Linked DNA regions of Homo sapiens: all the other regions are linked to region 3. The links come from fine-mapping of genetic effects on gene expression. A gene starts in region 3. Each other region holds a variant in brackets. All regions are shown on one strand. Distances are between the middles of the regions.

Region 1 (8,328 bases), 120 kb after region 3:
TAATAAAAAGTCTCCCAACAAAGAAAAGCCCAAGACTACACAGCCTCACTGCTGAATTCTACTAAACTGTTAAAGAACACCAATTATTCTCAAACTATTTCAAAAAATCAAAGGAGACAGAATTATTCAAAAATTCATCATGCAAGGCCATCATTACCCTGATAACAAAAGCAGACATGGACACACAAACACACACAAAAGAAAACTACAGGCCATTACCCTAGAATAACAAGATGCAAAAATCTCCAATAAAATACTAGCAAAATAAATCCAACAGCACATAAAAAAGATTATATACCATAATTAAGTTGAATTTATCCCAATGATGCAAAGACAATTCAACATATACAACACAATAAACATCACATCAACAGAATGAAGGATAAAAACCTTTTGATCATCTGAAACAGAAAAACGTTTAATAAAATTTAATATCCCTTCTTGATAAAAACTCTCAACAAATAGGTATATAAGGAATGTACCTCAATGAAATAAAGGCCATATATGACAAATCCACAGGTAACATCATAGTAAAAGTAGAAAAGTTAAAACTTTTCTGCTAAGATCTGGAACAAGATAAGGATGCCACTCTTACTACTCTTATCCAATATAGTACTGGAAGTCCTAGCCAGAGCAATCAAACAAGAGAAAGAAATTTAGGGTCCAAATTCGTATAGAGGAAGTCAAACTGTCACTGTTGGCTGATGATATGATCGTGTTTCTAGAGAACCCTGAAGACTCATCCAAAAAGCTTCTACATCTGATACATGAATTCAGTAAAATTCCAGGATAAAAAAAAATCAATGTATACAAATCAGGAGCACTGCTATACCCCAACAACGACCAAGCTGAGAAACAAATCAAGAACTCAATCCATTTTACAACAGCTGCAAAAAAAAAAAAAAATACTTAGGAGTATACCTAACAAAGGAGGTGAAAGATCTCTACAAAGAAAACTACAAAACACTGCTGAAAGAAATCATCAATGACACAAACAAATGGAAACACATCCCATGCTCATGGATGGGTAGAATTAATATTGTGAAAACGACCATACTGCCAAAAGTAATCTACAGATTCAATGCAATTCCTATCAAAATACCACCATCATTCTTCATAGAACTAGAAAAAACAATCCTAAAATTCATATGGAACAAAAAAGAGCCCACATAGCCAAAGCATAGCCAAAGCAAGACTAAGCAAAAAACAAACAAACAACAACAAAAAAACAAATCTGGAGGCATCACTTTACTTGACTTCAAACTATACTACAAGGCTATAGTTAACAAAACAGCATGGTACTGGTATAAGATAGGCATGTTGACCAAAGGAACAGAATAGAGAACCCAGAAATAAAGCCAAATACAGCCAACTGATCTTCAACAAAGCATACAAAAATAAAGTGGGGGAAAGGACAGCCTATTCAACAAATTGTGCTGGGATAACTGGCAAGCCACATGTCAAAGAATGAAACTGGATCCTCATCTCTCACCTTATACAAAAATCAACTCAAGATGGATCAAATACTTAAATCTAAGATCTGAGACCATAATAATTCTAGTAGATAAAATCCATAAGACTCTTCCAGACATTGACTTAGGCAGAGAGTTCATCACTAAGAACCCAAAAGCAAATCTAACAAAAACGTGAAAAAATGCTCAACATCACTAATTATCAGGGAAATGCAAATCAAAACCACAATTGTGATACCACGATTGTGATACCACAATATTTAAGTATGGCAAAAAATGACCATAATTAAAAAATCAAAAAATTATAGATGTTGACACGGATTCAGTGAAAGGAGAACACTTTTACACTGCTGGTGGGACTGTAAACTAGTACAATCATTATGGAAAATAGTACGGAGATTTCTTAAACAACTAAAAGTAGATCTACCATTTTATCCAGCAATCCCACAACTGGGTATCTACCCAGAGGAAAAGAAGTCATTATATGAAAAAGTCACCTGCACTCACATGTTTATAGCAGCACAATTCGCAATTGCAAAAATATGGAACCAGCCTAAATGCCCATCAACCGAGTGGATAAAGAAAACGTGTGTGTGTGTGTGTGTGTGTGTGTGTGTGTATTGTATGTGTGTGTGTGTCTGTGTGTACATATACTGTGGAATACTACTCAGCCATAAAAAGGAATGAAATAATGGCATTTGCAGCAATTTGGATGGAGTTGGAGACCATTATTCTAAGAGAAGTAACTCAGGAATGGAAAACCAAACATCATATGTTCTCACTTATGTGAAAGCTAAGCTAAAAGGATGCAAAGGCATAAGAATGATAAAAATGGACTCTGGGGACTTTGGGGGGAGGGTGGGAGGGGAATGAGGGATAAAAGACTACACATTGGGTACAGTGTACACTGCTTGGGTGATGGGTATACCAAAATCTCAGAAATCACCACTAAAGTACTTATCCATATAACCAAACACCACCTGTGCTACTAAACTATTAAAATAATTAGAAGAAATAAAAATGGGCAATTAATCTGAACAGACATTTATCAAAGATGACACACAAATAGTCAACAAGTACATGAAAAATGCTCAACATTGCTAATTATCCAGGAAATGCACTTCAAAACCACAATGCGATATCACACCCCAGTTAGAATGGCTACTATCACAAAGACAAAAAGTAACAAATGCTGGTGAGTATGTAGAGAAAAGGGAACTGTTATACACTGTTGGTGCGAATATAAACTGGTACAATCATTATGGAAAACAGTATGGAGGTTGCTCCAAAAACCAAAAATAAACTACTATGGGATCCAGCAATCCCACTTCTAAATATACATCTAAAGAAAAGGAAATCAGTATGTCAAAGAGATATCTGCACACCCATGTTTATTGCAGCACTATTTACAACAGCTAAGTATGGAATTAATCTAAGTGTCAAAAGTATATCCAGAGACAGCCTTCTCCTCTGTCCTCATTACTAACCTCGTTACAAAGGAGTTACCAACCCTCCCTGTTTCTTTTCCTTTACTCCCAATCACTTCCTAAGTCCAGACAATTGGGCTACCTCCCCAATAATCCTAACCATGACCTTTCAGGGACACCATTCTAACGACTAATCACTCCAATGGACTGTTCTTCTGTCCTGATCTTATATGATGTGTCTGCAGAATGTGAGACTGAATCTCTTCCTGAAAACCATTCTTCCTTTAGATTCCATGGCATCACTCTGAGGTTTCCCTTCTTACTCTCTGAATACTCTTCTCCATCTCTTTCACATTCACTTCTTGTAGCCATCCCTCATATAACATGCTTCTCCAATTTCCAGCCTATATCAGCTTTTCCTTCATGCTCTTATGAAATCTCTTGCCCACAGACTCAAATATTCAGATGATGATCCTCAGATTAGCTCAGACTCCTAAACTACCAACCAGACATCTATCTCCATACCTGGATGCTTCACTGGACCTCAAACTCAAAACATTCCAAACTGAACTT[G/A]GCCATGCTATGTCTCCTTTCTTCCTTCTTCTATAAAGTTTAAAATTCCCACTTGTTAAAGTCAGAGAAAACATCAGGACACCATCACCATAACTGCGCCCCCTAGAATAGTGTTATCGGTGGCCTAACCGGATTTGCTGCTTCCACATCTGTTATCCCCCACTATGTTCTCCAGACAAAAACCACAGCAATCTTCTAGAAGCCAAGTATGATCATTCTTAAATCCCTCCAATGGCTGAGCATTGCCATCAGGATAAAATCCAAGCCCCCTGGCATTGCCTTCAAGGTCTTGGTGGATATAGCCCCCATGGCTTTCTCCAATTTCATCTCTTACCACTCACAATGCTTGCAATGCCTACTGTCTTCACATGCATTACTATTCACTATCTCCTCCTTCCTCTCTCCCTCCCTACCTTTCTTTCTCTCACACTACTGTGTATCTTTGCAGAATGCTATTTCCACTGCTGGGACTTATCCCTTGCTCTCTTTGCCTGGAAAATTCCTTCTACAATTCCAGTTTTTCAGGACGGAAATTACATTTACGTTCTTCCAGTGTATATCCCTAATATCATATGTCTGCCTTGACACCACAGGGTGTAGGTAAACAATAATCTTACATACTTTCATCATGACTAGGATTATTACTGAAGTTATTAACGGTAACTAAAATTTGGCATTCATAAACTAAAACCCACTCCTTATTAAATAATTCTAGTTAATGTTCTACTAAGACATCTGGCTGCCGCGTATTACTTGGAAATTTTGCCAAAAGTTGAAATTCCACCACCAATACTTGAAATTCACAATTTTGAGAAAAATGCTTTATTAGTTTATTATTGCTGCTATCTTGAATTACAGCTTAAATGATGCTAAAATTTTTTTTTTTTTTTTTTTGGAGACAGTCTCGCTCTGTCACCCAGGCTGGAGTGCAGTGGTGCAATCTCGGCTCACCAAAACCTCCACCTCCCAGATTCAAGCCATTCTTCTGCCTCAGCCTCCCAAGTAAATGGGATTACAGGCGCACGCCCATCATGCCCAACTAATTTTTTTATTTTTAATAGAGACAGGGTTTCACCATGTTGGCCAGGCTGGTCTCCATTTCCTGATCTCAAGTGATTGACCCGCCTCAGCCTCCCAAAGTGCTGGGATTACAGGCTGATGCTAAAATCTTAAATCAAAATCAGTACCTTTATAAAGGATTTCATCGTGGTGGGTTGTCTGATTAACTCCTCAGTGAGTACTGATATATATTCATGTCATTATTTTTCAATAAATGGATTTTACAACTAAATTTGTAAAGATGAACTGTTTATACTCCTATTGTTAAAGTAATTTTGCTTCAAAGATAACATTAGATCGTTATCACAGAGTTATTCTTTTCATTAGAAAATGACAACAGGCAAGGTAGGTAGGCAACTACCTTACCTTAATGCAGCTGGTTATAGTTTAAAACAATAAGCTATTTGCAACTTTTATATCATCACACATCAGTGTTATGATCAGTTCTAGGATGTAATTAATAACTTATTACCAAGATTATTTTAAAAGCTAAAATTTTACCTTCTAAAAATGTTCTAGTATAGAATTAAAGTTATATCTGGCGTGTTACTTTCACTGTTTTCAAATCCATATAATTTTTGATAAAGATATGTAGTTATATGTACTATTTAAAGTAAGTGCCCTTAACCACAGGTGACCCAAAACAGTTACCTCTCATATGTATCAGAGAAAAAATATGCGTGAAATTGCTGATCTAAATAAGAAAAGTATGAGTTATATAGTATCAATGGGTATGCGTATGAAGGAAGGGCCGTTGATGGGCCTTAGTTCAATGGGAAGGGAGATAAAACACTAGATTCATTCCCAGGTGTCAAGATTGGGTAGTGTGGTGGTACTTCCAGAAATAGCAGGAAGCTAAAATAAAATGAGTTCAACTTTGAGTATGTCAAACTTTATACTCAGAGACATCTGAGAGGAGAGGTCCGTGAAATAGCAGGCTTTATCACCCTGAAGCTCACGATATATGCTGGGCTAAAGGAACATATATGAGCTAGTCACTAGCCAAGATGCAGGCAGAAATCAAATCAACCAGGGCAGGTATACAAAGAGAGAAGAGAAAGGAACAAGAAAAGGAATGGCAGGAAAGCCATTCCCTCCTGTTATGATATAAGTATTTCAGCAAAAGCACTGGGCCAGAATAACAAATGCTTTTGATTCTCTGAGAGCTTTCTGGCGCTCACTCTCGTGTTCCAGAATCAGTATCTGACACCTGTAAAGGCAAATTTTCTCACAAAAATCTAGAGTACATACATGTTCCTTCATATTCAGTTTCCATTTTGATAAGATATTCCATCATACCGCAATGTAGGAACATTCCAGGTATACCATAGTTGAAGTGGCTGCAAATCAAACCAGATACCTTACAACACAATCAATTCAATAACTACAAGATGTCAAGTGCCCAGACTACCATCAGCCACAATGACAGGCTTAAGCCCTGACAGTCCATTTGGTCAACTGGACAGCACAGTAACACACAGCGCATTTTCCATTTCGGGCACTCCAGTAGCACTCACTTTTTTTTTTTAGAAGCAATCAAGAGGCAAGATTTTGACTTCCAGCTAAAGTTGAATATGGTATGCCTTCTTGTATGTACCTTCTTCTCAAACGTTATGCAGAATCAATATTTCAAATATGTGCCTTCTATACTATTCACCCAGAATAAATCACCACCATTTTCAAGCAAAGATTCACAGTATTTCTAAGTTTTAGCCAGACTTTATATGGCAAGAAGGCAATCATTTTACCAAGTGCCTACTCTGTATCAGGCATTGTACAGTACTTAACATGTTATCTTAGTTAATTCTAAAACACCTCTATGAAATAAGGACCCGCCCTACTACAGATCAATAAACCAGGATTCAGAGAGGTTAAATAAATTTCCCAAAGTTACCAAGCCACCACCTGGAAGATCTAGGATTTAAGTCCAGGCATATCTGGTTACAAAGACTGTGTTCTTTCCATCATTACACATGTAATTTCAAAACTGTTCCAAGGAGGTGCCAGGAATGGCAGGGGCAGAGAACAGTGGCTGACTGTGAAGCTCCAGGCAAATCATTCCCACCATCAACAGGGAAAACTGTGCTGTAATCTATTTATACACAGGGTTGCAGGTACAATTATTGTTGGGGTGGGAGCACTGTTATGTTTGAAAAAGAGACGTATAAAAATCTGTACGTTAAACTGACATGATACTGCTGCAACTATTTGCATTGCTGAGAAAAAAAGACAGCAGACACCAGGAGCAATGGTGTATGCCTGTCTGTAGTCCCAGCTACTCAGGAGACTGAGGTGAGCGAATTGCTTGAGCCCAGGAGTTTGAGGCCAGACAGACATAGCAAGACCTGTCTGTTAGAAAACAAACAGGCTGGGTGCAGTGGCTCATGCCTGCAATCCCAGCACTTTGGGAGGCTGAGGCAGGCGGATCACGAGGACAGAAGATCGAGACCATCCTGGCTAACACGGTGAAACCTTGTCTCTACTAAAAATACAAAAAATTAGCCGAGAGTGGTGGCACGTGCCTGTAGTCCCAGCTACTCGGGAGGGTGAGGCAGGAGAATCGCTTGAACCCAGGAGGTGAAGGTTTCAGTGAGCCGAGATCGCGCCACTGCACTCACTCCAGCCTGGGTGACAGAGCGAGACTCCATCTCAAAAAAACAACAACAAACAAACAAAGATAGCAAGCATACACTAAAGCCATACATATTTTAAAAATTGGTTCAGTAATTAATTTCCCTCTAACCAAGACAACATTTAACACATTTAAATTTGACTACCATTTTACTCTCACTGAGAAAGAGTTGAAAACCTAATAAGGAAAGAGGAGCTACATAAAATCAAAATATGAACAGATGCAAATATTTAAAATATTCATCTTACTACATAATTCTGTATTCTGAATACGGGCATTAATGTAAAGAACAATTAGTGATCATTCTTCCTCAGTGAAATAGTCTTGGGCTACAATTCTTCCATTTCTACATGTCAATTATTAAACAGTGGCAACAAAAAATGCGGTTCTTTGTAATAAGTGATTTACTTATTAGAAATAAGGGTAATGTGTCATAAATATCTGATATTGATATGCAGTAAGTTAATACTTATTAATTTCATTTTATTTACAAGAATATCACAGGCATACACCAAATACTTCCTCTTAAAAGATGCTAAATCCTTCAACAAAGTTGCATGATTAGTCATGAGCAGCATTTCTAAAATGGGACCAGTGGTAGATTTCATATAAGGCAGATGCCAAGCTATGGAGAATATGCATAATAATCATTGATGTATTGAGGCCTGGGTTGGAGAATCTATAACCTGCGGTCCAGATATAATAATCTTATTTAGCTCATGGTTCATTTCTGGAAAAAGACTTACTGCCACTGTTATTTTTATGTTTTAATAGGATTTCTTTTTGATAAATGAAGTTTATGAATATAGCTTAAAAATTCAGTACACGAATAGGAAGAATCATGGTACATAACTGCCTCTGAATTCTCTTGCCTCTGTTCATTATCAGTGGGAGTTGTGTCAAGTGACTTAATTTGAGATTTGCTTTTTTCAACTACACACAAAGGGATACAAATTCTGTTTAACACTGTGGATAGAACATACACATTGATTTTTTCCTTTTGAACAAAATACTCTAAAATGACAGCAAAAGAGTATTTTTGTTGTTGTTGTTTTTAGTTATAAGTACAAAGACAGGAAGAGAACAGATATAACTGGTGATACAGTTTGGATGTTTGTACCCTCACACTGAAATATAATCCCTGATGTTGGAGGTGGGGCCTGGT
Region 2 (5,000 bases), 41 kb before region 3:
AATTGAGAACTCATTCATTACTAAGAAGATGGCTCCAAGCTATTCCTGAAGGATCTGCCGTCAAGACCTAAATACCTCCTGATATGGTTTGGCTCTGTGTTCCCCACCCAAATCTCATCTTGACATGTTGAGGGAGGGACCTTGTGGGAGGTGATTTGATCATGGGGGCAGTTTCCCCCATGCTGTTCTTGTGATAGTGAAAGAGTTCTCATGAGACCTGATTATTTGAAAGTGGCAGTTTCCCCTGCACATGCTCTCTCTCCTGCTGCCCTGTGAAGAAGGTGCTTTCTTCCCCTTTGCCTTCTGCCGTGGTTGTAAGTTTCGTGAGGCCTCCCCAGCCATGCAGAACTGTGAGTCAATTAAACCTCTTTTCTTTATAAATTACACAGTCTCAGGTAGTTCTCTATAGCAGTGTGAAAATGGACTAATACACCTCCCTTCAAGCCCCACCTCCAACACTGGGTATCAAATTCCAACACAACATTTGGAGGGAACAAACATCCAAACTCTATCACGTGTTCTTACCCAATGGCTATGTGTCTTTATATTTAAATTGCTTTTTCCATCTCATTTCTTTGTCCTCAATTGCTATCTTTTCCGTCATCCTCTTTAGATGGATCTCTTTCCTTTTCTTTCAATACTACACCACTTTCAGGAGTTAATGATAAAGGCCCTAACTGGTACCTACTAGTAAGATGCAGCTTATGAATATGTTTTGGTTTGGTTTCAATTTTGTATTTGGTTTGAATTTTAGTTTTTTATCTCCATTCTACCCAAAGTAGTAAACAATTTAATGTTTGGGCCAAGAGCAGTGGCTCATGCCTATAATCCCAGCACTTCGGGAGGCCAAGGTGGCCAGATCATTTGAGGTCAGGAGTTCGAGACCAGCCTGGCCAACATGAGGAAACCCTGTTTCTACTGAAAATACAAAAAAAATTAGCTGGGTGTGGTGGCACATCCCTGTAGTCCCAGCTACTCAGTAGGTTGAGGCAGGAAAATAACTTGAACCTGGGAGGTGGAGGTTATACTGAACCAAGATCACACCACTGCAATTAATCCTGGGTGGCAGAGTGAGACTCTTTTTAATAAAACCAAGGAGTAGCTCTTCCATGATTGGGAAAAGTTAAGTTATTTTCTTTTCAAACTCCATTTTCCATCTGAAAAGATTTAGTTTGTTGTTTATCCAATCCACTCATTTGATGGCCATTTTTACGTACATGAATCCTTGAATTTCATTCCATTTTCTGGAATATTTTACATGTGTGTTCTTATAAAACTTTCAAAAGTTGTTTTTATATATGCTTTAGAATAAGTATTGTTGATACATAAACTGTAGCTTATATAGTGATTTTCAGAGTGTTAAAATTTAAAATTTAGATTCTGTGTATTATTTTTGTAATAATGCAAATACTGCAATTAAAGATAAAAAGAGAGAGACAAAGTGAACAAACAGGGATCTGTTGAGGGAGGGACCTAGAAAATATCAATCACTAAAATCAAATAATCTTTTCATCTATATCCTTAATTCATATTTTTATTTATAGTGATTCCTCCAAATCACTAAAAGTTCAGAACACATAAAAATTCTAGAAAGTTCTAAACAAAATCTTCTATGACCCATTACACCTTGTTTCAGTCTGTAAACTCTTCAGCTAATGGTCTGCCTCATCCTTATCATTATCTAATTCAATATTTATTTCAGCTCAATGTAAGTCTTAAAGATTCATTTGCCATTCTCCTGCAAAAGGGAATAGCACTAATAGGACTCGCTACTCAAAAAAGATTGGTTTAGAAGATTTTGCCCCTTTCTTACCCAAAGGCAGCTCTTTTACTGATACTTCCCCAAGCCTGTTGTGCTCTGAGAACAAGCTTTTATTTCCCCTTTCCTGGAATATTATCCAAGTCATTTCTGAATGACATATTATCCAAGTCATTTCTGAATGATACTTCCCCAAGCCTGTTGTGCTCTGAGAACAAGCTTTTATTTCCCCTCTCCTGGCGTATTATTCAAGTCATTTCTGAATGACCCAGTTTGCATCTAAAGTCCTTATTGTTTCTAACCAGCAGCACCCAGAACTGGACATCATCTTTACCTCCTGAATAAGGTTAGCTGTGCTAGTCCGTATCAGATAAAACTGGACTGGGTTCACATGCCCAGTTTGAAAATGCTTTCTGATTGTCAGTGATTCACCCTTCCCCCTAGTGTTGGTTTTTTTGTTGGTTTGTTTATTTGTTTTTGCTTCTCATTTATCATCTTTCTACTCTCTCATCCGCCCTAACTTCACTTTTGATCTATTTAAGATTTGTCTCACCCTCCTCCCAGAATGCTGTTTGGCCTGCTCCTGATAGTGCCAGCGTGTGGTGACTTGCTATATCACAGACATGCACCAACGTCTGCTATTTGACTGCATAAACTCAGTGTTTGCCCAGTGAACTTCAGATCACACTGAGCATCTAATTCTAAATATATGCTTATTAAGGCTCTCTGTGCAGTAACCCACACAATTCCTTGTATTATGTTAATGAAGCAACCATTCTGTTTATTTGCCCTCACCCTAATTCAAAATTACACATGGCTAATGTTCCTAGATTAATCCAGAGCCATAAATCAGTATAGCTCTATTCTGAACCTAGGACAAACTAGCTCATAATTAATTGGTGACTCATTCAGAGTTTACTGAAATGTATCCTTTGTTTGTATAATAAATGCCAAAGTTCTATGATATGCAATGGTTCAAGAAAAATTTGATTAGTGTTGGAAAAAAAGATAGTAAGAAGTAAGCAATTGTGAAATAGTAAGAAGTAAGCAATTGCAAAATAGTAGGAAGTAAGAAATTGTAATTGTCCAACAGCCAATAATTTGGATGAAGCTGGGGGAGTTTCTATTCAAACAACCAAATATTTGGAACATCTGAGAGCCAAACAAAACTCAAATTATTAACTAAATAAACTGTTTTTTCTAATATAATGCTAGTACAGTTTTTTCCTCTCATCAATACATTCTTACAATGTAAGAATAAACAGTAACAATTCAAATCCCTGAGCCATACTGAATCAGAATCTCTG[A/G]GAACTAGCTTCTGGGAAATGTGCCATTTCAACAAACTTCAAAAGTCAGTCTTTGCACACTAAACTTTGAGAACTACCATTTCACAATATGCTTTCTATCTCTCAAGCTGAGGATGATTCTGTCTCTGTCCCAGGACTTCTGACAACTTGCTTTACACGAATAGCTCTAATAAACACTGTATCCATGTTTTTATGGGACTGTAGTTTATTCGATTTGGGAAAACTTCTTTAACAAAAATAACATGAGTATCAATACAAAATCAGTTTTAAAAGTGATTTAGAATAAAAAAGGAAGTCACAATAAAATAATGGACAATAAAATAGTAAAGTTTCAGGTTCCTTTCTTCTGAAATCTCTTTAGGTTATTTACCAGAATGCTTACACAGAAATGCTTCCCATTTATAACCTGGTTCCCCTTCCCCAACTTGAATATTCTATTATAACTCCCAGAAATTCTCAACGTTCACTAGGCTCCATGTGAAGGAGAAGCTCAAAGCATAACCTCCTTAGCTTCATCCTAGATCTACTTGAAACTACAATATTAACCATTCACTTAAAAGTCATTAACACCATAGGAATGAGTCCTGGGACTAACAGTGTTGAGTGGTCATCCTGAACCATATTCCTACTGGTTTTTTTGGTCTCTTTTTCTCTCTGTCTAGGACTTTACAATGACTTTTTATCTCAGGCATTACTGGAAAGACGAGAGGCTCTCCTTTCCTAGCACAGCAAACAAAAGCATGACATTTGATCATAGATTGACCAGAAAGATCTGGGTGCCTGATATCTTTTTTGTCCACTCTAAAAGATCCTTCATCCATGATACAACTATGGAGAATATCATGCTGCGCGTACACCCTGATGGAAACGTCCTCCTAAGTCTCAGGTAAGGAAAGCTGCCTATCGCCTTTGGCTTCCCTGTACTGCAGCCATCTGCACCAAAGCTGATGATGCTTATTTCAGATGAAACTCACAATGTTGCTGTCTGTTTAATGCTGCTGGAGATTGGGACACAAGCATAAGATGTGATTTTCCCCTGGTTCTAACATCCAGATTTTAAAAAATGATTTTCTATTCTAACTCTACCCACTCTGGGTATATGTCGATTGGACAAATAGAATGAGCTGAATTATGGAAATCCTAAAATCTGGCACACAATATTATAAGTAAACAAGCCTGTTTTCCTCCTCACCAACTCCACCCCACCCTGGCACCCCACCAAGCAGTTTTGGAACCTTGGATTAGCTAAATAACTTTTCTTAGTTGTCTCCTTCATTTTTCATGGGAAGGCATGGCTATCATTCAAGCTAACACCAATTTGCTCTCTTTTTCTTTTCTTTTAATTTTAAAATGTGCATTCCAACACTTTGCTATAACAGTCCTCCCTTTTTAATGTTCCATATTTTCTTTTAGTCAAATGAGTTCTGTGCATATTGAGTGGCTTATCATGGATAATTCTAAAAATGTTTGGTAAACCCAAGCAACTCAGCTTTTTTTAATGTCCTACAAACCTTAGAAAAATTCTAAAGTAGGGTGAAGAAATGATACCCCAAAAGATATCCATGTCCTAATTCCTGGAACCTGTGAAGCTTATCATATATGACCAAAAAAGAAAAAAAAATCCTTGCAGACGTGATTAAGTTAAGGATCTTGAAATAGGGAAGAAATTATCTGGATTATCTGGTTGGGACTTAAATGCAATCAAAAGTATGCTTATAATAGAAAGGTAGAGGACAATTTCATGCATACAAAAGAAGAGTAGGCAATGTGGTCATAAGTCAAGGAATGTTGGCAGCCACCAGAAGCTATAGGACACATGGATTTTCCCCCTAGAGCTAAGAGTGAAGGGCCTTTATGACACTTTGATTTCAGCTCCATGATACTGATTTCAGAGTTCTGGCCTCCAAATCTGTGAGAGAATAAATTTCTGTTGT
Region 3 (8,328 bases):
CTTCATTAACAGACCCATCAGTACCTGACTAGTACCACCTTAGTTGGTCATTTTTAGGTCATTATGATATTTTAAAGGAAAATAAGTAAACTAATGTTGCATCATAATATTGGGGCTTCCTGACCCATATATACATTCTGTTAGTCTTGTAGGAAACATTTTCAATAGGAGCTTGTGTACCTTTTAACAAAGCAACCCAAAGAGTATGAGCAGAAAGCACCTCTGCAGGAGTACATATTTTTATAAGAATTGGGCAAGTCAATTTCAAGATTTATGATAACATGTTAAGTAAGAAAACATCTCTGTAAGGGAAAGTCATTGGAAAATCCTGAGGCATATTTTCACCTGCAAGTGCTGGGTTGCTGGAGAAAGGAGGTCTGCAGAATCATTTAAGAAAAGTCATGCAGCCTAACACCAACTTTCCTATAGGCACAGGCTGTAAAAGAAATTGGACTCTAAGCAAGAAAAGAAAATAGGAATGCTTACCCAATTCAATTTTGTAAACAGAGTAACTACTCTGTGAAGAACTCTGTTGCAGTTCTCAGAATTAAAGAAGCACATTTCTTGCTCCCAAGGAGTTTAAATCATAGTTTTATAAATATGCAAAATATAATTCCAAACGGTGATGGTATGCTTGTTATCAAGTTAAGTACGTTGAGTTCTATGAGCTGTATCGTAACTACTATAGTCTTGAAAGACCTCGGCCTGGGTCATTGTTAAACAAATTTGACTTTTCTGAAGGTACTAAGACACCAAGATTATCCCATGGTGATATGACATCAATTTGAAGGTACTCTGCTTGATGAATTGTGTAAATTAAGTGAAGTATGCATGTATAAAAGGCCCAACTGCATTTAATTCATTCCATGGAATCATGTTCAAGATGTCATATGGGATTTAACAGTAATGCCTCTCACACTCAATAGCATTTTACAGTTTTAAAACTCTTTTGCTTACTCCACCTCACCTGAAACTCACAGCATCTTTCCGAGTTAGGTGAAATTAACCACTTTTGGAGAAACATAAACAGAGGTCCAAAGAATATTACTTGATAGGCAGTATGGGTGCTATGGTCTGAATGTTTGTCCCCACCCTGGATTCATATACTGAAACAGAATCACCAATGTGATTGGAAGGTGGGGCCTTTGGGAGTAGATTATGTCACGCGGGTAAAGCCTTATAAATGGGATTATAAAGAGGACCCACAGAATTGCCTTCCCACTTCTACCACGTGAGGATGCAGCTAGAAGGTGTCCTCTGTGAACCAGAGAACAAGCCTCCAAAACTGTGAGAAGTCCATTTTTGTTGCTTATAAGCCACCCAGTCTTAGATATTTTCTTATAGCAGCCCAAATGAAAAAAATGGACTATCAAATGATGTATTTTTGAGCAAGTTCCTTAACCTTGATGTGTCTGTTTCCTTATATTAAAAAGTTAGCCCAATATAGTGGTATAAATATTAAAGTCATATACTAGAAAGACATGGTTTAGATATTTTCTGGACCAAAGTGAATACAAACACATAGGGGGCAGTACTCACATAGTTTAAAGCAATGTGTGTTTCCTGGAATCGTATGACACAGTAGCATTATAAAATAAAGCTTTACAACAAAAATACAAATATTAATCATTTTATAAGTTCTTCAATGTTTATAGACTGAAAGGTAATTCCAATCAGACTGATTCTTCTTCTAATGCCCTTTGAAAATTGGAGCACAGACCCTTAAGCCTATGGAATTTGAGTGCCAATAGGGATATCACAGTACATCTGGTGCAATCTTACTTTATAAATGAGGAAAGTGAATGTTAGCAAAGAGAGTTTTCCAAATTCATATACCTGGCCCCTCCAGAGTTAGATCTAATAACCATAAAAAGTACATTTACACACCACCATTTTTAGATTTTTTTGCACCCAGCATCATTGTGACTGGAGGTAGGAGTAGGACAGGGTTGCACTTTTGCAGCCTGATGCCCAGGCTGGACAGGTGCACAGCCACAATGAGGTGGCTAAAAACCAAAAGCTCTACAGGAAGAAGAGCCTAGGAGACCACAGAAGAGGAAGACAAACTTGGCTCTAAAAAGAGTCTTTTAATAAAGCAATCCAAACGGTGTGAACGTCAAGCACCTCTGCAGAAATGTAACTTATTTTACAAGGCTCATGGACAAGTCTGTTTCAGGGTTTATGGCCGAGACATGAAGGGAATTCTCTTCTTTCTCCTGTCTCCTTGGCATCTTGTTCCTCAGTTACAGAGGAGGAGCGCTAGTCTGTTGATTAGAAATCTGGAGGCTTCTAGACTTTTCCGGACAGATCTTGAGAGCTGCCATCTACAACATTGTTTTCATGAGAAAATTAATTACAGAAACAAAATAACTGACTTTTAAATGAACCTATGGTGGGGACTGGATAGCAGTCTGCATCTTGTCCTCTGGAAGAACTTTTCCAAAAAAAAAAAAAATACCAGAAACAATACATGTAGGAAGGCCATATATTCTAGAAGCCTCCCAGGCAAGGTTGCAGACCATTCTCCACTCCCATCCCATGCCACCCTTACTTCCTCACCTCCTCTTCCTCCTCTCAGGCAAGGTTGCAAGCCATTCTCCACTCCCATACCATCCCACCACACCCTTACTTCCTCCCCTACCTCCTTCCCTCCCTCCCCCTTCCTCCCTCCCTCCCCGCCCCTTCCTTCTTTCCTTCCTTTAGACGGAATTTCGCTCTTGTCACCCAAGCACAAACTAACTTTCCTTCTCTTTTTCTTTTTCTTTTCCGAAACAGAGTTTTGCTCTTGTTGCCCAAGCTGGAGTGCAGTGGTGCAATCTCAGCTCACTGCAACCCCGCCTCCCTGGTTCAACCAATTCTCCTGCCTCAGCCTCCTGAGTAGCTGGGATTACAGGCAGGCACCACCATGCTTGAGTAATTTTTTTGTATTTTTGTTAGAGACGGGGGTTTCACCATGTTGGCCAGGGTGGTCTTGAACTCCTGACCTCGGGTGATCCACCGGCGTCAGCCTCCCAAAGTCCTGGGATTATAGGCGTGAGCTACCGCACCTGGCCCCTTCTCCTTTTCTTCACAGGAATGATGGGCACTGTTTAGGTCTGAAAATGGAACTATCATGACTTTTTTGCTTGCTATGCTAAGAAATCGGAATTATAATGAAAAAAATCAGAGAGAACATACTGATATACTAATTTTGCATTAGAGGAACTCCTACACAAGATGTATGATTTCCCCCTGCAAAGCTGACTTCCATATGTACTTTTGTTCTGTTAGACATCCTGCGGCCATTTTATATGCTGAGAAAATGGTATTTTGTGTTGACATTATAACTTTTTTCTACAACCGTACTGCTTTTCCAAGTGGTGGACGTGTGAGAATTTACCTTTATCTGAATCCCGGGAACAGCAATATTATTCTATATTATCTTGAGTAGATGTCTTGCAGTCAAAATAAAGAGCGAAGTACATTACCAATATCATATCAACTAGAGATTTTTGCTGTTGACTATTCTTTTTTACCCTGTAAGGGCTAAATTTGATGTTACCCTCGAGTTTTTCCAACTGGAACCTGCCAGGAAACTTACTAGTTATACGAGTATTAGTAAAACGTGAAAAAGACCAACAGTTGACTGACTGGTTTGGCTCTAATCTTGTTTCTGCATCTTCCTAGCTGTGTGATCTTGTGCAAGTTAGTTAACCTCTCCTGACTCAGTTTCCTCAACTGTAAAATGGAGGTAATTGCAAGGTTGTAGTGAGGATGAAGTGAGGAGTATTTGAAACACCTAGCGTGGTGCCTTATAGCCAGGAAGAACTCAATTCAAGACTTGCTATTATTGTTAGTTTTAGACAAATACTAGACAAGGGTGTACTTTGTTCCCATTTGTTCATGTGCCACTTGATCCTTAGAAGCAGCCACTGGTCTCAGTCACCTTGACGGAACGAAATGTCGACTTCCTCTGGGTCCTCTGGCTGTCTACAGAGCAAAGAAAGGCACAGGCCCGCCACTGATTTCCCTGCTCCCTCATTTGTGCCTCCTGACTGGAACCAAATGTTCCAAAGCAGGGAGTGTTAGGCTGAAAGGACTCAGATAACTGCATTTCTTCTGTTTCTATAGCCATAGTCGCAACGAATTTCCAGTATCTTTTAAAACTAGGATTGACTCTCTCTCCCGGAGCGAGATGATATAAATGACACTCGGCTTGTACAAATCAGCATTGTGTAGCCACACAGCCCATAAGAAAGCCATGGGAGAACCCGGACCACCAACTCCCTAAACTTGCACCGCTGGTATTCCTCTTCAGGCCTGCTTCTCTATTCATAAAAGGAACGGAGTTGCACCAAAACGCTCTCTCAAATCCTCTCCTGCCGCCCCAAGTTAAAAGAAAAAAAAGGAGAGCCGGGTGGGTGGCTCACACCTATAATCCAGCACTTTGGGAGGCCGAGGCAGGAGGATCGCTTGAGCCCGGGAGGTAAAGGTTGCAGTGAGCCAAGATCGCTACCACTGCACTCCAGCCTGGGCGAGAGTGAGACCTTGTCTCACATACCATAAAAAAAAAAAAAAAAAAAAAAAAAAAAAAAAAAAGAGGAAAAAAAAGGCCATTTATTTCCTTCCATATGGACTAAAGAAACGCCCGGGCGTGAACGCGGAACACCGCCGGGTAGCCAGGCCTCCGGGCTGCCACCACTTGCGGGCCGGCGTGGCGGGGCGGGGCGGGGGCTGGAGCACGGCCCGGAGCGTGCCCACGCTGCCCCGCCTCCAGCCGCTGCGCCGCAACGCAGTGGGCTCGCGGCCGCGAGCAACAGGCCGTGCCGGGTGAGTGGGGCGCTCTCGTGGGCATCCCAGCGCCGGGGCAGGCCGGGTAGTGCCCGATCCCGCGGGGCGCGCGCTGCTGCTTTAGGCACCCGGGCTCGGGTGCGGGTCTGGGAGACCTGTCGGTCGGCGAGAAGCCTCGGTGGCCGGCGCTGTGGTTGCGGGACCTGGGACGCGCTCCCAGGCGTCCCACCTCCCCGGAGACTGGGGCAGGGTGGGTGGGGCCCGGATCTAGGGGTAGGGTCGCGGAAGCCTTGGTTACAGAGAGTCGCACACGTGGCCTGCTAATGGTCGCGACACCGGTGACGAGCGCACGGAAAGTTTGGAGGCTTAGCAAGGAGGGTGGTGCCGGCCTCCGCCCGGTGGTGGCAGAACTGCCTGTGCGAGCACGGCTTCCACGTGGGCTGCGCCGCCGGGCGTCATGTCGGGCCTAAGAGACACGCTCTACAGCTGTGAAATCTGAAGTTCAGGTGTGTGGGGAGAAGGGCAGCTGCATTACATCATATGCTTCCAATTCATTTACCAGCAAATAATTCCGCAACGATTGGCCGACAGCTGGGTTGTCCAACAGGTTACTGAGACCAGGTTATTCACTGTTTTCAGGAAGGATAGACTGGGAGGAAGAGGATCTGATTTCGCCACTCATTAGCTGTAAATCTGGTGCCTCGGGTTTCATGTCACTGGGCTCATCTTTGAGCAGAGGAACCTGATTTACTCAGCTTCTTCTGCTGGTACTGGTTTTTGCCTCCTGGACATCAAGCTTTGTAACCTCATGGTCACGAAAATACATTGAGGTATAGTCCGTTTCCTCTCTAAAATCAGACTAAAAAGATAACTGCTGATCACTCCTTTAGGTCAATAGGAGAACCAGTTTTCCCTCTGGATTGATTAACATATCTCTGAGCCAAAAAGAAATGTTTTAGATCAGTCTGGGCAACCTTGTTACAAGCAATATATAATTTCTGACAGCCGTGTGTTTAACTGAGCTGCGTTTGACTGTTGTCCTCCATTAGTGGACCTAAAATTCATCTAGAGAGCGTATTACGTTAATGCAGATTATGGGCCTCAGCCATCAGAAGTGGCAATCCAGTGGGCTTGATGAGGGCCCAGAAATTTGCATGCTAACAACCTTGCTGGTAACTCTGAACTACATTCTGTAAAACTGCCCAGGGGATGTAGAAATTCATACTTCCCTCCCCGATTTAGTAATAACTACTGATGTCTAAAGTGCCTTTTAGCTTTTACGATACTCTTGAATCCTGAAGTGACAGCTGCAATCAGAAAAATAATCCCCTCTGCACAGGCCATCTGTTTTTTCCGTAACTGTTTTGTGTAAGGCCTTTGTGGTTTGTCTCCAAAATTGTATACAGACAAAAGATGAAAATGTGAAAAATTCAGCAGACATTTCTTGAGGACCTCCTATGTACCACACCGTGCTTGTTTCCGGGGATATACAAATCCTTTCCTTCAAGAGCTTCCTCACGTCTTCATGTCCTCAAATATTATAGAAAAGGAGGTTAGGGTACCTTTAAAATATAGTGACTGTCTGTCTGTTGCCTATAGTATGGTTGTCAACATTGATTTTCTTATAGGGTTTATCTGTGGGGTAGTCACCAAAGTATGAACTGTAAATCTTTTAGTCTTTTTACATTTAATGCTTATAGTCAACTCAAATGGAAAACAATTGCTCTTCAAAAACTTTTCTGTGATTTTACAGAAATATTTACTCCTATTGGGGTGGTCTCTAAGGCTTATGGGCAAGGTTGTGTTGGCTGTACTATTCTAGACAAAGCATTGTCTTCTTTAATTACTATAGTATTGGATTCTAAGATATGTGTTTTACTTCTTGCTGTTTCCGAAATTATGATATGTACCTTAAGACTTTTGTATGTTTAATGTGGTAGGATGCTTCATCTATTCTCCCCTCTGCTCTAGAAAGCTGTTAAGAGGAATGGTTGTCTTACAGTATGAGTAGTGTGAGAATCAGAGAAATAATGTATTTGCCCAGAAACCTCTAAGCTTAGGCTCCAATTAACTGAGCCTCAAATCATTTCAACATGAACACAGAGAAACAAATGATGTAACTTTTGGCAGTATGGGTAGTGAAATTTATATTCTAAGGAAAGCATTTGTTATACAGTATTGGGGTTTGTTAGTGATTGTAGATGGGAAAGATTCTTTTAAGTGATTTTATTTTGGCTTAAGTGTTTTGCATTCTTTGATTAGCCACACTTTCTGGTGAATGTGCTTATACTGTATTCATATATTATGCTTAAAGAAAAGCTTTTCGTTTGCATCTTCCTCCTGCTCTCTCCCCTTAAATGAATTTTAAACTGACCAATTGTGAGAGATAAGAGATGTGTGGCTGAATATAAAATGACTCTATAGGGTGCCTTTAGTAATACAAACCTAATAAACCAATCTAAGTTTTTAAAAATTAAACGTGAGCAATGTGCTGTGGTCCCCAAGGCCATCTTTAGTTCAGCAATTTGCTAGGAGGACTCGGCTGATTTATTACAGGGAAAAGATATCAAGCACAGTCAGCAAAGGGAAGAGGCACATGGGTGAAGTTCTGGGGATACCAAGTGCAAGGCTCCAAGGGTCTTCGAGCGGTCACACTGGCTGTGCTCAGTTGCTCCAGCAACTAGTTGTGTCAACACTTGTGAAATGTTGCCAACCTGCGAAGCTTGTTAGAGACTCAGTGCCCAGGGCTTTTACTGGGGGCTTTTCACTTAGGCCACCCCTGCCTGGCACATACCAACGTTTCCAGACTCCCAGAGGAAAGCAGGTGTTGGTATAAACTGTAATGATTGTACATTTTAGGCATGGTGAGCCACTCCTATCAGTTAATGGTGGTGGAAACTCTCCCAAAATCTTAAGTTCTCAGACATCGGCCACAAGCTGCACTTTCAAAGGATAGCAGTCAGGCCTGCTATGGAACGTCTTCTGCATAAGCAGTACCCCTTCCCGAATCCATTTTTCTATCTCTTTGTATTTCTCCATCACTTGAGAGTTCCATGTACTAGCAATGCTGTGCCTTCCTGAAGCCTTAATTCTTTCCTGGAGAATTCAAGCTGGTCTGTTTCACTTAAAGGAAACATTTTCAGAAAATGTGTCTTACTGACCACATATCCTAAACACTAAAGTTTATTTTTTTTTTCTAAGCTTCAAGCTTTACCCCTCTCCTGTAGTATCAGTTTGTGTTAGTCTTCCACCATGTCCTGTGTTTCCTTATCAAAAGCACCTGGTCTTTTGAAGGAATGGAGCTGTTTAGAGGGTTTTATATTTTGACATTTCCTTTCTTAATTTGTTCAGTTTACATCTGGGTTTCAATCTAAAGTTTCTTTTATAAGTTGCAACACGTCACACAGTATGCAACACATCGTTCCAGGATGCTTACTTCCCAGGCCAGAACATTAATTCCACTTAGTCTACAGTGTAGCTGAAATACTGCTTAGTTATAATGACAAAAGAACAGAAAACAGTATTCTTGCAATTCTGATAACTCACCAAAGTAGGAAA
Region 4 (8,328 bases), 67 kb after region 3:
TGCCTCACTTGGGAAGCGCAAGGGGTCAGGGAGTTCCCTTTCTGAGTCAAAGAAAGGGGTGACGGACAGCACCTGGAAAATCGGTTCACTCCCACCCTAATACTGCACTTTTCCGGCGGGCTTAAAAAACGGTACACCACGAGATTATATCCTGCACCTGGCTCGGAGGGTCCTACGCCCACAGAGTCTCGCTGATTGCTAGCACAGCAGTCTGAGAACAAACTGCAAGGCGGCAGCCAGGCTGGGGGAGGGGTGCCCGCCATTGCCCAGGCTTGATTAGGTAAACAAAGCAGCCAGGAAGCTCGAACTGGGTGGAGCCCACCACAGCTCAAGGAGGCCTGCCTGCCTCTGTAGGCTCCACCTCTGGGGGCAGGGCACAGACAAACAAAAAGACAGCAGTAACCTCTGCAGACTTAAATGTCCCTGTCTGACAGCTTTGAAGAGAGCAGTGGTTCTCTCAGCACGCAGCTGGAGATCTGAGAACGGGCAGACTGCCTCCTCAAGTGGGTCCCTGACCCCTGACCCCTGAGCAGCCTAACTGGGAGGCACCCCCAGGCAGGGGCACACTGACACCTCACACGGCAGGGTATTCCAACAGACCTGCAGCTGAGGGTCCTGTCTGTTAGAAGGAAAACTAACAAACAGAAAGGACATCCACACCAAAAACCCATCTGTACATCACCATCATCAAAGACCAAAAGTAGATAAAACCACAAAGATGGGGAAAAAACAGAACAGAAAAACTGGAAACTCTAAAAAGCAGAGCGCCTCTCCTCCTCCAAAGGAACGCAGTTCCTCACCAGCAACGGAACAAAGCTGGATGGAGAATGACTTTGACGAGCTGAGAGAAGAAGGCTTCAGACGATCAAATTACTCTGAGCTACGGGAGGACATTCAAACTGAAGGCAAAGAAGTTGAAAACTTTGAAAAAAATTTAGAAGAATGTATAACTAGAATAACCAATACAGAGAAGTGCTTAAAGGAGCTGATGGAGCTGAAAACCAAGGCTCGAGAACTACGTGAAGAATGCAGAAGCCTCAGGAGCCAATGCAATCAACTGGAAGAAAGGGTATCAGCGATGGAAGATGAAATGAATGAAATGAAGCGAGAAGGGAAGTTTAGAGAAAAAAGAATAAAAAGAAATGAGCAAAGCCTCCAAGAAATATGGGACTATGTGAAAAGACCAAATCTATGTCTGATTGGTGTACCTGAAAGTGATGGGGAGAATGGAACCAAGTTGGAAAACACTCTGCAGGATATTATCCAGGAGAACTTCCCCAATCTAGCAAGGCAGGCCAACGTTCAGATTCAGGAAATACAGAGAACGCCACAAAGATACTCCTTGAGAAGAGCAACTCCAAGACACATAATTGTCAGATTCACCAAAGTTGAAATGAAGGAAAAAATGTTAAGGGCAGCCAGAGAGAAAGGTCGGGTTACCCTCAAAGGGAAGCCCATCAGACTAACAGAGGATCTCTCGGCAGAAACCCTACAAGCCAGAGGGGAGTGGGGGCCAATATTCAACATTCTTAAAGAAAAGAATTTTCAACCCAGAATTTCATATCCAGCCAAACTAAGCTTCATAAGTGAAGGAGAAATAAAATACTTTACAGACAAGCATATGCTGAGAGATTTTGTCACCACCAGGCCTGCCCTAAAAGAGCTCCTGAAGGAAGCGCTAAACATGGAAAGGAACAACCAGTACCAGCCGCTGCAAAATCATGCCAAAATGTAACGACCATCCAGACTAGGAAGAAACTGCATCAACTAATGAGCAAAATAACCAGCTAACATCATAATGACAGGATCAAGTTCACACATAACAATATTAACTTTAAATATAAATGGACTAAATGCTCCAATTAAAAGACACAGACTGGCAAATTGGATAAAGAGTCAAGACCCATCAGTGTGCTGTATTCAGGAAACCCATCTCATGTGCAGAGACACACATAGGCTCAAAATAAAAGGATGGAGGAAGATCTATGAAGCAAATGGAAAACAAAAAAAGGCAGGGGTTGCAATCCTAGTCTCTGATAAAACAGACTTTAAACCAACAAAGATCAAAAAAGACAAAGAAGGCCAATACATAATGGTAAGGGGATCAATTCAACAAGAAGAGCTAACTGTCCTAAATATATATGCACCCAATACAGGAGCACCAAGATTCATAAAGCAAGTCCTGAGTGACCTAAAAAGAGACTTAGACTCCCACATATTAATAATGGGAGACTTTAACACCCCACTGTCAACATTAGACAGATCAACGAGACTGAAAGTCAACAAGGATACCCAGGAATTGAACTCAGCTCTGCACCAAGCGGACCTAATAGACATCTACAGAACTCTCCACCCCAAATCAACAGAATATACATTTTTTTCAGCACCACAACACACCTATTCCAAAATTGACCACATACTTGGAAGTAAAGCTCTCCTCAGCAAATGTAAAAGAATAGAAATAATAACAAACTATCTCTCAGACCACAGTGCAATCAAACTAGACCTCAGGATTAGGAATCTCACTCAAAACCTCTCAACTACATGGAAACTGAACAACCTGCTCCTGAATGACTACTGGGTACATAACAAAATGAAGGCAGAAATAAAGATGTTCTTTGAAACCAACGGGAACAAAGACACAACATACCAGAATCTCTGGGACGCATTCAAAGCAGTGTGTAGAGGGAAATTTATAGCACTAAATGCCCACAAGAGAAAGCAGGAAAGATCCAAAATTGACACCCTAACATCACAATTAAAAGAACTAGAAAAGCAAGAGCAAACACATTCAAAAGCTAGCAGAAGGCAAGAAATAACTAAAATCACAGCAGAACTGAAGGAAATAGAGACACAAAACACCCTTCAAAAAATTAATGAATCCAGGAGCTGGTTTTTTGAAAGGATCAACAAAATTGATAGACCGCTAGCAAGACTAATAAAGAAAAAAAGAGAGAAGAATCAAATAGACGCAATAAAAAATGATAAAGGGGATATCACCACCGATCCCACAGAAATACAAACTACCATCAGAGAATACTACAAACACCTCTACGCAAATAAACTAGAAAATCTAGAAGAAATGGATAAATTCCTTGACACATACACTCTCCCAAGACTAAACCAGGAAGAAGTTGAATCTCTGAATAGACCAATAACAGGATCTGAAATTGTGGCAATAATCAATAGATTACCAACCAAAAAGAGTCCAGGACCAGATGGATTCACAGCCGAATTCTACCAGAGGTACAAGGAGGAACTGGTACCAATCCTTTTGAAACTATTCCAATCAATAGAAAAAGAGGGAATCCTCCCTAACTCATTTTATGAGGGCAGCATCATTCTGATACCAAAGCCAGGCAGAGACACAATAAAAAAAGAGAATTTTAGACCAATATCCTTGATGAACATTGATGCAAAAATCCTCAATAAAATACTGGCAAACCGAATCCAGCAGCACATCAAAAAGATTATCCACCATGATCAAGTGGGCTTCATCCCTGGGATGCAAGGCTGTTTCAATATATGCAAATCAATAAATGTAATCCAGCATATAAACAGAGCCAAAGACAAAAACCACATGATTATCTCAATAGATGCAGAAAAAGCCTTTGACAAAATTCAACAACCCTTCATGCTAAAAACTCTCAATAAATTAGGTATTGATGGGACGTATTTCAAAATAATAAGAGCTATCTATGACAAACCCACAGCCAATATCATACTGAATGGGCAAAAACTGGAAGCATTCCCTTTGAAAACTGGCACATGACAGGGATGCCCTCTCTCACCACTCCTATTCAACACAGTGTTGGAAGTTCTGGCCAGGGCAATTAGGCAGGAGAAGGAAATAAAGGGTATTCAGTTAGGAAAAGAGGAAGTCAAATTGTCCCTGTTTGCAGATGACATGATTGTATATCTAGAAAACCCCATTGTCTCAGCCCAAAATCTCCTTAAGCTGATAAGCAACTTCAGCAAAGTCTCAGGATACAAAATCAATGTACAAAAATCACAAGCATTCTTATACACCAACAACAGACAAACAGAGAACCAAATCATGAGTGAACTCCCATTCACAATTGCTTCAAAGAGAATAAAATACCTAGGAATCCAACTTACAAGGGATGTGAAGGACCTCTTCAAGGAGAACTACAAACCACTGCTCAAGGAAATAAAAGAGGATACAAACAAATGGAAGAACATTCCATGCTCATGGGTAGGAAGAATCAATATCGTGAAAATGGCCATACTGCCCAAGGTAATTTACAGATTCAATGCCATCCCCATCAAGCTACCAATGCCTTTCTTCACAGAATTGGAAAAAACTACTTTAAAGTTCATATGGAACCAAAAAAGAGCCCGCATTGC[G/C]AAGTCAATCCTAAGCCAAAAGAACAAAGCTGGAGGCATCACACTACCTGACTTCAAACGATACTACAAGGCTACAGTAACCAAAACAGTATGGTACTGGTACCAAAACAGAGATATAGATCAATGGAACAGAACAGAGCCCTCAGAAATAACGCCGCATATCTACAACTATCTGATCTTTGACAAACCTGAGAAAAACAAGCAATGGGGAAAGGATTCCCTATTTAATAAATGGTGCTGGGAAAACTGGCTAGCCATATGCAGAAAGCTGAAACTGGATCCCTTCCTTATACCTTATACAAAAATCAATTCAAGATGGATTAAAGACTTAAACGTTAGACCTAAAACCATAAAAACCCTAGAAGAAAACCTAGGCAATACCATTCAGGACATAGGCATGGGCAAGGACTTCATGTCTAAAACACCAAAAGCAATGGCAATAAAAGCCAAAATTGACAAATGGGATCTAATTAAACTAAAGAGCTTCTGCACAGCAAAAGAAACTACCATCAGAGTGAACAGGCAACCTACAAAATGGGAGAAAATTTTCACAACCTACTCATCTGACAAAGGGCTAATATCCAGAATCTACAATGAACTCAAACAAATTTACAAGAAAAAAGCAAACAACCCCATCAAAAAGTGGGCAAAGGACTTGAACAGACACTTCTCAAAAGAAGACATTTATGCAGCCAAAACACACATGAAAAAATGCTCATCATCACTGGCCATCAGAGAAATGCAAATCAAAACCACAATGAGATACCATCTCACACCAGTTAGAATGGCAATCATTAAAAAGTCAGGAAACAACAGGTGCTGGAGAGGATGTGAAGAAATAGGAACACTTTTACACTGTTGGTGGGACTGTAAACTAGTTCAACCATTGTGGAAGTCAGTGTGGCGATTCCTCAGGGATCTAGAACTGGAAATATCATTTGACCCAGCCATCCCATTACTGGGTATATACCCAAAGGACTATAAATCATGCTGCTATAAAGACACATGCACACGTATATTTATTGCGGCATTATTCACAATAGCAAAGACTTGGAACCAACCCAAATGTCCAACAATGATAGACTGGATTAAGAAAATGTGTCACATATATACCACGGAATACTATGCAGCCATAAAAAATGATGAGTTCATGTCCTTTGTAGGGACATGGATGAAATTGGAAATCATCATTCTCAGTAAACTATACTATCGCAAGAACAAAAAACCAAACACCGCATATTCTCACTCATAGGTGGGAACTGAACAATGAGATCACATGGACACAGGAAGGGGAATATCACACTCTGGGGACTGTCATGGGGTGGGGGGAGGGTGGAGGGATAGCATTGGGAGATATACCTAATGCTAGATGACGAGTTAGTGGGTGCAGTGCACCAGCATGGCACATGTATACATATGTAACTAACCTGCACAAGGTGCACATGTACCCTAAAACTTAAAGTATAATAATAATAAAAAAAAGATTATAAAAAAAAGACTCAGAAACTTAAAAAAAAATAAAAATAAAAAAATAAAAAATAAAAAAAATAAAAATAAAAGAAAAGCCGCATGAGAAGAGAGACAGGTTGTCTTGTTCACTAACTACATTCCCAGTTTGTTTATTAGTTGTATACTGCTGAGCTGAAGATTTATACTTCAACATTTTCACAATGAAGCCATGAAACATCAAATCCTGGACTACTGATACTGCCAGTGAAGCATATTTCAGATGGTATATACAGTAGCCACCTCCAGTTTTTTGTCTCAGTCTTCATACCCGGAAAAATCAATTAAAATTCATATACACACGCAGAAATAATGTTATAAAGTATCTCTTGATTTGATGGGTTAAAATAATCTTTGTCCAAACTTTAAAAACTGGGTTAAATGCTTATCTGAGTTGACTAGATGAGATATGGTATATGATTCACCCAGAATTAGACCAATTCTACAAAAATATGCCTCACTTTGATCACCTTATCAATCCTCAAAATAGAACAATTCTCATAATAATGTTCTGAGGATTGTCCATAGAGAAACCAACTCTGAGCTTGCTGATTATAATAATTAACTTGTGGTTTCTACTGTTGGTGAAATTAAGGACAGAGCCTTGGAGAAATTCAGTCCTTGGAAAAACTAGCTGGATAAATGACCATGTTGGCTACCTTTACAGAACAATCGATAACAAATATACAAAACAACTCAGGTTGCTTAAAACCGAGGCAAATTGACAAATAAGAGATGAGTGTTTTCCAGACTACACCCATCCTTCTGTGCCATGTTGGTACGGCTCAATCCCTAACAGCTCCCCAACTGGAAATGGAAGCGAAGGAAAAAAAGTATTCCTCTGGTTTGCTTTTCACATGTATTATTGTATTTCTTTCTTAGAACTACCAGTATTGAGCAGAAATTATCTCCACTATATTATGAAGATTTTACAGAAATTCTTTTTGCTACATAATTTTCACTTATATACTAACAATATGTGGTAATATATATCTTTAATATGACAAACTAAAAATGCAATGAACTACTGACAAAACACAGCTGTGCTCACTTATTCTACAATATCAGCATTATTTTTAATGTAATTTTAGTTACTCCAATACTAAAATAGTTTCTATGAGAAACTTTCTTCCCTGTCTAAATAAGACTTTCTCTAGCCCTTTGAGCCTCCCTCATAGAAATATGTTGATTATTAAGGAAAAGTCTTATTTCCATTCTTCTATTACATCACATCTTTCTCATATTGTAGTGTTATATATTTCTCATATTGGTTATATATTCTACAATGATTTCATTTCCCTTATTAACCATAAAGGCTTTCTTTACTGAAATAATTCTTCCTAAGTATTTCTGTGATTTGGCTCCTATAAAAATGATCTGGTTAAAGTGCCACAAAGAAGTGTTTTCTCTTTACTGCTTGTGAATCTTACTGTATTTGCCTAAAGCTGTGATTTTCCTATCCCCCATACATGAAAACAGTAGCAACAATTATTACAGATCCTGTGATCACTTTAAAATTCAGTGAGGCTAAATTATCCAATATAAGAAAACGCCTAGTTGCTTTTCTTGGTGAGAATCATGCATAAAATGGAACAGGGGCTCAATGTTTAAATAAATCCAAACATTTAATTATATCTGGAAATGGACTTTAAAAAGATTCTAGAAACAAAAGGTACTTGGCTGAGTCAAAGGGGAGAACTGGTTAGAATTTCTAGAGAATGATGCCTAACTACAACCTCCTCTGAAAACTAAATTCACTGTTATAAGATTTAATCTAGTGCTAGATTTCAGATATTCAGGACTTGCTGTAAGAGAGATGATGACGACATGCAGATAATACATATTCTGTTTGGTTTTTGTTTTGTTTGGGGGAAAAATTAAAAAAAGTCACTTGCTAATGGTGAAGAATTCTATAGCGATCCTGTATATCTTGAGTTGCTAATTAGACATAGCGACCAACCTTCAGTCTTCAGGAAAAAAAAATCTTCTCAATAAAAGGTGGTGTTCTCTGCATGTTCTCACTCATAAATGGGAGTTGAACATTGAGAACATATGGGCACAGAGAAGGGAACAACACACACCAGGATTTGCTGGGGAGTGAGGGGCGAGGGGAAGGAACTTAGAGGACTGGTCAATAGGTCCAGCAAACCACCATGGCACACGTATACCTATAAAACAAACCTGCACGTTCTGTACATGTATCCCGCTTTTTTTTTTTAGAAGAAATAAAGACAAAAAATTAAAATAAAATAAAACTTTCCTAATCCCAAAACAAAAAATAAATAAAATTAAAAAATAAAAAGTGATGTTCCACCAATATCTCAAATAAGCCATATCTCATCATAATGTTTCCAGGTCAGCAACAATATTTTTAATCACCATAACACTCATAATGTATATTAATCCCTACACACATACATTTTCTGGCTTTTCCCCTCTTAGGTTGCTTGAGGT

The links. PIP is the estimated chance that this variant, and not a neighbour inherited with it, causes the effect.
Region 1: its variant is the best candidate, but not a certain one, in a credible set for the expression of RIOX2 in T cells (TOPMed, PIP 0.54).
Region 2: its variant is the best candidate, but not a certain one, in a credible set for the expression of RIOX2 in whole blood (INTERVAL, PIP 0.59).
Region 4: its variant is the best candidate, but not a certain one, in a credible set for the expression of RIOX2 in whole blood (INTERVAL, PIP 0.57).

Annotation. Positions count from the first base shown.
Region 1 is chr3:97,847,170-97,855,497 of GRCh38, reverse strand. All of the region lies in intron 2 of CRYBG3 (crystallin beta-gamma domain containing 3), which reads right to left. The region is part of intron 3 of LOC105373994 (a long non-coding RNA gene); the gene reads left to right. Among named protein-coding and RNA genes, the nearest start is that of CRYBG3, 29 kb to the right of the region's middle. The variant G/A (reference allele first, on the strand shown) is at 3,473.
Region 2 is chr3:98,011,296-98,016,295 of GRCh38, reverse strand. GABRR3 (gamma-aminobutyric acid type A receptor subunit rho3) reads left to right here. Exons shown (of 10, transcript NM_001105580.3): 5 at 3,729-3,952. Among named protein-coding and RNA genes, the nearest start is that of GABRR3, 22 kb to the left of the region's middle. The variant A/G (reference allele first, on the strand shown) is at 3,067.
Region 3 is chr3:97,968,862-97,977,189 of GRCh38, reverse strand. RIOX2 (ribosomal oxygenase 2) reads left to right here and starts at 4,759. Exons shown (of 10, transcript NM_153182.4): 1 at 4,759-4,809. LOC124909398 (a long non-coding RNA gene) reads right to left here and starts at 4,537. Exons shown (of 2, transcript XR_007095976.1): 1 at 3,380-4,537; 2 at 2,068-2,324. RefSeq lists a silencer at 4,575-5,014 and an enhancer at 5,285-5,544.
Region 4 is chr3:97,902,259-97,910,586 of GRCh38, reverse strand. All of the region lies in intron 15 of CRYBG3 (crystallin beta-gamma domain containing 3), which reads right to left. Among named protein-coding and RNA genes, the nearest start is that of RIOX2, 66 kb to the left of the region's middle. RefSeq lists enhancers at 1-134, 135-725. The variant G/C (reference allele first, on the strand shown) is at 4,369.